Homo sapiens: one gene and its partner. The protein of the gene in region 1 interacts with the protein of each later gene in a biochemical or structural test. Each region holds a gene or a part of one and is shown on either strand. Other genes may lie near its edges.

The links.
Region 2: the proteins of PTPRN (region 1) and SNTB2 form a complex in vitro, tested with the Homo sapiens proteins (2 studies listed by BioGRID and IntAct).

The regions. Positions count from the first base shown.
Region 1 is NC_000002.12:219,307,909-219,311,656, reverse strand, and holds the start of PTPRN (receptor-type tyrosine-protein phosphatase-like N isoform 1 precursor), read left to right. Parts: upstream 1-2,255; 5' UTR 2,256-2,324; coding exon 2,325-2,439; intron 2,440-2,686; exon of another isoform or gene 2,687-2,775; intron 2,776-3,748. UniProt on the Homo sapiens protein: Plays a role in vesicle-mediated secretory processes. Required for normal accumulation of secretory vesicles in hippocampus, pituitary and pancreatic islets.
Region 2 is NC_000016.10:69,302,161-69,305,908, reverse strand, and holds part of SNTB2 (beta-2-syntrophin), read right to left. Parts: 3' UTR 1-3,748. UniProt on the Homo sapiens protein: Adapter protein that binds to and probably organizes the subcellular localization of a variety of membrane proteins. May link various receptors to the actin cytoskeleton and the dystrophin glycoprotein complex.

The DNA.
Region 1 (3,748 bases):
TAAACCAGTGATCAATTTTAACATCACTAATAGAACAGTCAGACATCATGTACTTCCTGAAATGATGCAATGAGAGGCATTTTGCTTTAAAAATTCTTTAATTTGATACAGTCAATACTTCATATATAACTTCTAGTTTACAGGAAATACAGGTGATATACAGGTTATACACTGGAGAAATACAGGGAAATACAACATGAAGAAAAAAATCAGATAAACCCAGAAGAAGAGTTCTAAAGAAAAATTGACCTGGTCTATCAACATGACAATGTCAAAAATGGGGGAGGGGAGAGAGGATATGGTGTCTATGCTAATTTACAGAGATTAAGAAACATAACAAAGGCCGTGGTTGTTCTTAATTGACTGTTATTTTGAACAAAACACCTGAAAAGAAAAGGCATTTTTGGGGAAACAATCTGAGAAATTTGAATATGAACTGAGCATTAAATTATATTAAGGAATGCCCGGGCGCGGTGGCTCACGCCTGTGATCCTAGCACTTTGGGAGGCCGAGGTGGGTGCATCACGAGGTCAGGAGATCGAGACCATCTTGGCTAACACGGTGAAACCCCGTCTCTACTAAAAATACAAAAAATTAGCCGGGTGCAGTGGCAGGCACCTGTAATCCCAGCTACTCAGGAGGCTGAGGCAGGAGAATGGCGTGAACCTGGGAGGGGGAGCTTGCAGTGAGCCAAGATAGTGCCACTGCAGTCTGGCCTGGGCAAAAGAGCGCAAGACTCCTTCTCAAAAAAATAAAAAAAAAAATTTAAAAAATTATATTAAGGAATTATTGTAAATTTTTTTAGGTGTCATAACAGCACTTAGGTTATGCAGGAAAATGTCCTTATTTCTTGGAGATGCATAATGAAATATTTAGAAGAGAAATGTCATGATGTCTATCATTCATGTTTAAATACTAAAAAGAAGCAAATATTGTAAAACATCAATAACCATTAAGTATGGATGATGAGTATGTAAGTATTCATTATGCATTTCTGTCCTTTTTAAATTTTATTTTATTTTACTGGAAAGCAAGAGAGGAAGGAGATCAAATCTGAACTTAAGAAGCTCACTCCCCTACTTATTGGATGACTAGAGTGGAAGCAAAAGAGCAGTTACTAGCTGATTGCTGCAGTGGTCGTGGTGAAAGAGCACAGTGTTTCAGTTCAGGTAGTGAGGATGGACAGAAGTGGACTGATGGGAGATGTATTTTGCAGGGAGAAACCATAAAATGATTGATAGCCTCGAGGTGGCACAGACGGAGAGAAAGGAGAGTCAAAGCTAATGATGAGGCCAGGCCCGGTAGCTCACACCTGTAATCCCAGCATTTTGGGAGGCGAAGGCCGTTGGATCACCTGAGGTCAAGAGTTCAAGACCATCCTGGCCAACAAGGTGAAATCCCATCTCCAATAAAAATGCAAAAATTAGCCGGGCAAGGTGCTGTGCGCCTGTAATTCCAGCTACTAGGGAGGCTGAGGCAGGAGAATGGCTTGAACCCAGAAGGTGGACATTGCAGTGAGCCAAGATCACGCCAGTATCCAGCCTGGCCAACAGAGCAAGACTCCATCTCAATAAAAAATAAATAAAAGCTAATGATGACAGCTAATATGTATGGAGCATGTAGTATGCACCAGTCCAGTCATCCTTCTAAGTGATCCATATTAGTGTAACGAACAAAATCTTCACAATCACTGTGTGAGGCGGGTAGTAACTATTAACACCTCCACTTTGCAGATCAGGAAACTTGGACGCAGACAAGTTAAACAAGGTGCCCAAGGTCATACCCTTAGTAGATGCCCTGCTAGAACTGGAATCTAGGCATGCCTAACCATTTTTTCTTAAGGAAGAGAACAGTATCTTCAATGACAATGAGTAAGAGTACTTATTCTACCCACTTTTCTGCTTCTTGTCTTCGGGTTTATCGTTCTGGACCCACCTATCTTTCCTGGCCCCCCACTTAACTTAACCCTTTTCACCCACCCTGGGGCGGGGAGACAGAGGTGATCCTAGAAGAGGGCTACAGGGATGGGGCCAAGTGGGAATTCTAGCGAGGCGCCTACTATTTGATGGAGGAGGGATGGGCTAGGTAGGTCCCCCGCTCCGACAGGGCTCTTACGCCATATGTGACGCAAATTAGCTTACGAGCCGGGGGTGGAGGTGTCGTCAGCACCCGCCTGCGGTTGGCCGCGTTGCAGCGAGAGGGGCATGTAGACCCCGCCTCGTAGGGAGGTGGGGAGCGGCAAGCCCCGCCTCAGCCCCTCTGGCAGGCTCCCGCCAGCGTCGCTGCGGCTCCGGCCCGGGAGCGAGCGCCCGGAGCTCGGAAAGATGCGGCGCCCGCGGCGGCCTGGGGGTCTCGGGGGATCCGGGGGTCTCCGGCTGCTCCTCTGCCTCCTGCTGCTGAGCAGCCGCCCGGGGGGCTGCAGCGCCGTTAGTGCCCACGGTCAGGAGGAAACTTGGGCTGGCGGGTGGTGGGGGGCGGGGAGCAGCTTGGGGCCTGGAGCGAAACTCGGTGGGGGTGAGGGTGAAATGTCATGAAGCTCGGGGAGAATATGGGTTGGGGGAGGCATGCGAGATGAGGAAGGTGAGAGGGCGTCTCGGAGGAAAGGGGCGTAGGCCTGGAGGTGGGGCTGGGAATACGGGGGCGGGACCTAAGAGAATTGGGCTCTGGGGAAAATTGCAGGTTCGGGAGAAGGACACGGGGTGCATGTGGGCAGAGGGACTTAGAGACCGGCTGCGAGACCACAGGAGAAGCCACTTGCTCCGAGGCGCCTGGGAGGTGGTGACAGGCGCTGAGGAATGGGAAGGGGAGGTGGCGGGGAGAATGAGGGAACGGTGATCTCTGGGCAGTGGAAGCCTGGGCCGCAGACATAGAGTCCCAGCTGGGCAGAGAGAGAGGCCAGGGTTTCTCCGTAAGCCTAGAGAAGCTGATTGCAGCGATCTGATCTCCTGTAACGGGGGACAGCACGGGGAGGGGGCAGAAGAGGATGAAGAGGGGAGGGTCCTCTCTTGTCCCCCTCCCCACAGCCAGGCCTGGTGCTGACTCACATCTGTGCGGACAGAGACAGTCAGCGCTGACTCACGGACAGGGGGTGGGGGATGGGAGGGTGGCGCGTGGGGGAAGGGGCGCAGCCTCGCCGCCTGGCGCCCTCTTTCCCCACCCGGGCTTGGAGGCCCGAGAGGCAGAGTACTTCCTGTGACGCTGTGGGTTGGCAGAATACAACAGAGGGCTCAGGTCTAGTGGAGAGTCCTCGCTCTGTGACCCCTTCCTCTCTGGTAACCGCCTCCAAGGCCAGCCCTTGGCGGCGCCAGACTCAGAGCTTCAGCACCGCGGACAGCGCCAGCGGCTCGGGACAGCGCGAGGAGAGATGCCTAAGAGACACCCTCCCCAGCCCCACCCATGCCCTCTTTCCCCCGACCGGGGGAAGTGTGCTAGAACCTCTTCTGAGTTCCAGGCCATTATAGGATGCTTTTCCATATTTGGGAAGGAAATTCCTCTTTCAGAATTTGGCCAAAACCTCTCCTGCAGTAATTCTATGAATCTCTCTCCCTGCACCTGGAAGGTTTCTTCCCTATCACTCAGTTAAGCAAACAGAGGCTTTTAAGGATACAGACTCACAAATTCTTAAAATCCAAAACAAGATCCCATGCTTCCTTTTAAGAAATTCAGGCCTGATTCCTACTCTCCTCCCAGCTTAAGGCCTTCTTTAGAATGAAAGAATAAATTGCATCTGCTTCTCCCGTTCCCAGCC
Region 2 (3,748 bases), on another chromosome or scaffold:
GCAGATTGCTACAATTGGTTTTTAAAGACAGTATGTGGAAAGTCAGAATAATTTTAGATTACCAAGCAATTAGGGGGCACAGAGAAAGAACAGCAGGAGATGGCAGACTGCTCTACTTCCATCTTCAGTGGGGTTAAAAAAAAAAAAAAGCCACAATAACAACAGAAATTTAACTGAAAGTGATGTCCAAACTCAAAGTAGAGTATAATACCACCTGGTAATTAATGTCATACCTGACAGAGATATATAAAAAGAATGAATGACTACAGTCAAATTCAACTTAAAGTTTAAGCAGAATCCCAAATTTAAGTAAGTCTCTTTTCATTACATAGATATTTGATCTGATCAGAGCAATTTGCTTTGAGACCAAAGAGATCTGGCATTTTACTTATTCATTAGGAATTGAAAAAAGAAGACCTTTGGCTTTCTAACCAGCCATTTCATTCATGGCATCAACAGCCGATGGCAGCCACATGGAAATGTATGCTGGATATTTGGATAGTTTAAATATTATGTACAAGGAATAGCTTATAACCAGTGAAAATAATAAGAACATAATTCAGCATAAGTGTCCAAGATAAGATACAAAAAAGCAGAGAAAGTGCTTGAGTCTACAGGTCTTCCCTGAAAGTTTCAAAAATGTTTAATTCTTAAGCAGGTAGGCCTTTTAATAGAATTTGCATAGCAGCATACAAGGTAATTTGCATTAAAATATATGAACAGAGATTCTTCCATGGCTTTGAAAACAAATATATCCACATGCATATAAGTTAAGCAAGAAGACCTGGAATTTCTCACAAAATTAAAAAAAAGAATCTATTATAACCTTTTCTCACACTTTCGCCCATCAAAACCATTTACAGCAAAACCTGTTTCTAGGAGAAACATAGCCTTGTCCAGATTCCACACAGCTTAATTTTTTTTTTAAGCATAATTTCTGGGGCCAGGTGCAGTGGCTCACATCTGTAATCCCAGCACTTTGGGAGGCTGAGGCAGAAGGACTGCTTGAGTGCCAAGAGTTCAAGACCAGCCTGGGCAACATGGCGAAAAAAAAAAAAGAAAAAAAAATCCATAAAAATTAGCCAGGTGTGGTGGCACACACCTGTGGTCCCAGCTACTCAGGAGGCTGAGGTGAAAGGATCATTTGAGCCCAGAAGGTTGAGGCTGCAGTCAGCTATGATCATACCACTGCACTCCAACCTCGGTGACAGAGTGAGAACCTGTCTCAAAAAAAAAAGAAGGAAAAAAAAGAACAAATTCTGGTTTATCAGCTAAGTGCATTCATTCAGCTGGAAAAGCTTTGTTACCATTCAACTTAGGAGGATAAATTAGGAAAACAATCAGTAATAATGTTAGGTATTTGTTGTTTAGAAAGATTTTTTTACTTATAAAAATATAAGAAATAAATAATCCAATCTCTCCTGCCATGCAATAATTTTGAGTAACAAAGTTTGTGAGAGTACAGAACATAAAAACAGGCACTATCAGACCTTCTTTGGCCTAAAAAGTGCTAAAACATGGCTTTAAAATAGGTGAATGACATTTAAAGTAGTATTTTTGACTGCCTATATATGTTCCAGTATTTAACCTGAAACTCTTATCTACTAGGGAGGTGAGTTTACAGTTACAACTATCTAATAAATACTGCAGGAACTTATATTTAAGTATTTCTTCATATACAACATTAGAAACTAATTTCCAGATAATGTTTCATTTGATGACTTCAGGAAAGGACTTACCTTTTTCAGAAAAAGAAAAACTGAATGTTTTTCTTTTGTTCCTTTCCTTTTCTTTTTATGGAGAGAAAGGAGAGAAGTTTTAGGAGAAAAGGTGGGAGACTTTTCATATACCAACTCGCTGCTCCTAGGCATCTGTGTGGAATGTGGAGAAGCTGTCGAAGCCCCGGGTCTGGGGGGCACAGGAAGCAGTCCCTCTGAATGGGGAGCAGACACTATTCTGCAGTTTCCTTTCCATTCCACACACTGGAACCCACCACATCCTCAACAATTTTCTTAATTCAAAATGAAAAAGAAATGAAAAGTGAGCTGGTTCTATAAAAAAGGTAGAATATCGAAAATTCCCATTTGTAGTTATCATTTGGAAATAATTTGCCATACTTTGGCATCTAAATATAAATACATATTTATCATGGTGTCCCATTCATTAGAGAGCACTTCATTTGCGGACTGAAAATCCCACAAACACATTTGATTGAAGAACAACCTTGGTCATCATGACTGGAGAGCTGTTAGGTATGTAAGAAAAGCAGCAAAAGGGTTCTGGTTCTTGGGGCTGCTAATGGACAAAGGAAACCTCCCACACTTTCATTTCACAGCAAGACTCAAAAGATATTAAGAACCCTACAGACCTCAGTGCTATACATGTCAGTTTAACCTTGACCAAAATGAGTGAAAATGCACACATGCCTTGCCTTTCCTGCTCACATTTTAATTCCACCTATTTTACATCCTCATATAACCAACAAGCAGGGTGGCTCAGAAGCTCCCCTGCAAATCTCAGTGGCTTAGCTTTTCACATTAACACAGAAAACCTCAACCAAATGGCTTTGCTGCTGAAGTCTGTAAAGGCATCATTCAACATCTCATATTAATAATGCTCTCACTGCATAGAGGGTTCAAGATTGCCTACCTGAGGGTATTACATATTGAAATTCTGATTCCAGAAATCATTTCTGGACGTTCAAGAGATTTTTTTCCTTCTCTGAAATGAAAATTTATTGTGGGCCAGGCACGGGGGCTCACACCTATAATCCCAGCACTTTGGGAGGCCAAGGCAGGTGGATCACTTGAGGTCGGGAGTTCAAGACCAGCCTAGCCAACATGGTGAAAACCTGCCTCTACTAAAAATACAAAAATTAGCTGGGTGTGGTGGTGGGTAGCTATAACCCCAGCTACTCAGGAGAATCACTTGAACCTAGGAGGTGGAGGTTGCAGTGAGCCGAGATCATGCCACTGCACTCCAGCCTGGGAGACAGAACGAGACTCCGTCTCAAAAAAAAAAAGAAAAGAAAATTTATCTCAGATGGAGCCAATCTTAGGTTTATGAACTTTCAAAACATAAAAAGCTCTTGAAAGACATATTCTTGTCTAGATTTTAATTTCCAGTTTTAAGCAGTTCAGATAATTCATTTTTGGAACTTTGACAATTATATGAAGCTGGGGGAAGAACAGGCATCTCTCCCCAACCTCTGCATATTGTTGGTTTCACTGTAATGAGGAAGGAGGACTGACTTATGGGTGAAGGAGGACAATGGAGTTACAATGTTGACCTAGAACTCTCTCTGCTCATGGGTCCTCCCCATCGGTCAGGCCGCACTGAAACCAAATAGCTCATTTTGCACACAGGTGTGTTTTTCTCTTCTTTTCTCCCCCTGTGCCTGCCCCATCTGAAGTGACACCCTCCTCCACCCTCCACAGCGCTCACATTCTTCCGTGGCACTCTTGATCAATCAAGCAAACAAGAACTTTCCCTAGACCTTTCTTCAGAGAGCATAAAGAACATCCAAGTCAATATTACCTATTCTTTGAGATCCAGGGACTGTGCTAATTTTGACATTTTATATGATATTATACCATTTTAAATGTTTGCAGATATATACCACCTTCAAAATTAGGAAAAACAAGCTGAGTTCATTTTCTAACACTACAAAATCAGCATTCTTGCTGCTACTGTGTCCTAATGATATCTGGCAATCTTAACCAAAAGCAGGTAGCTGTTCCACGGTCTC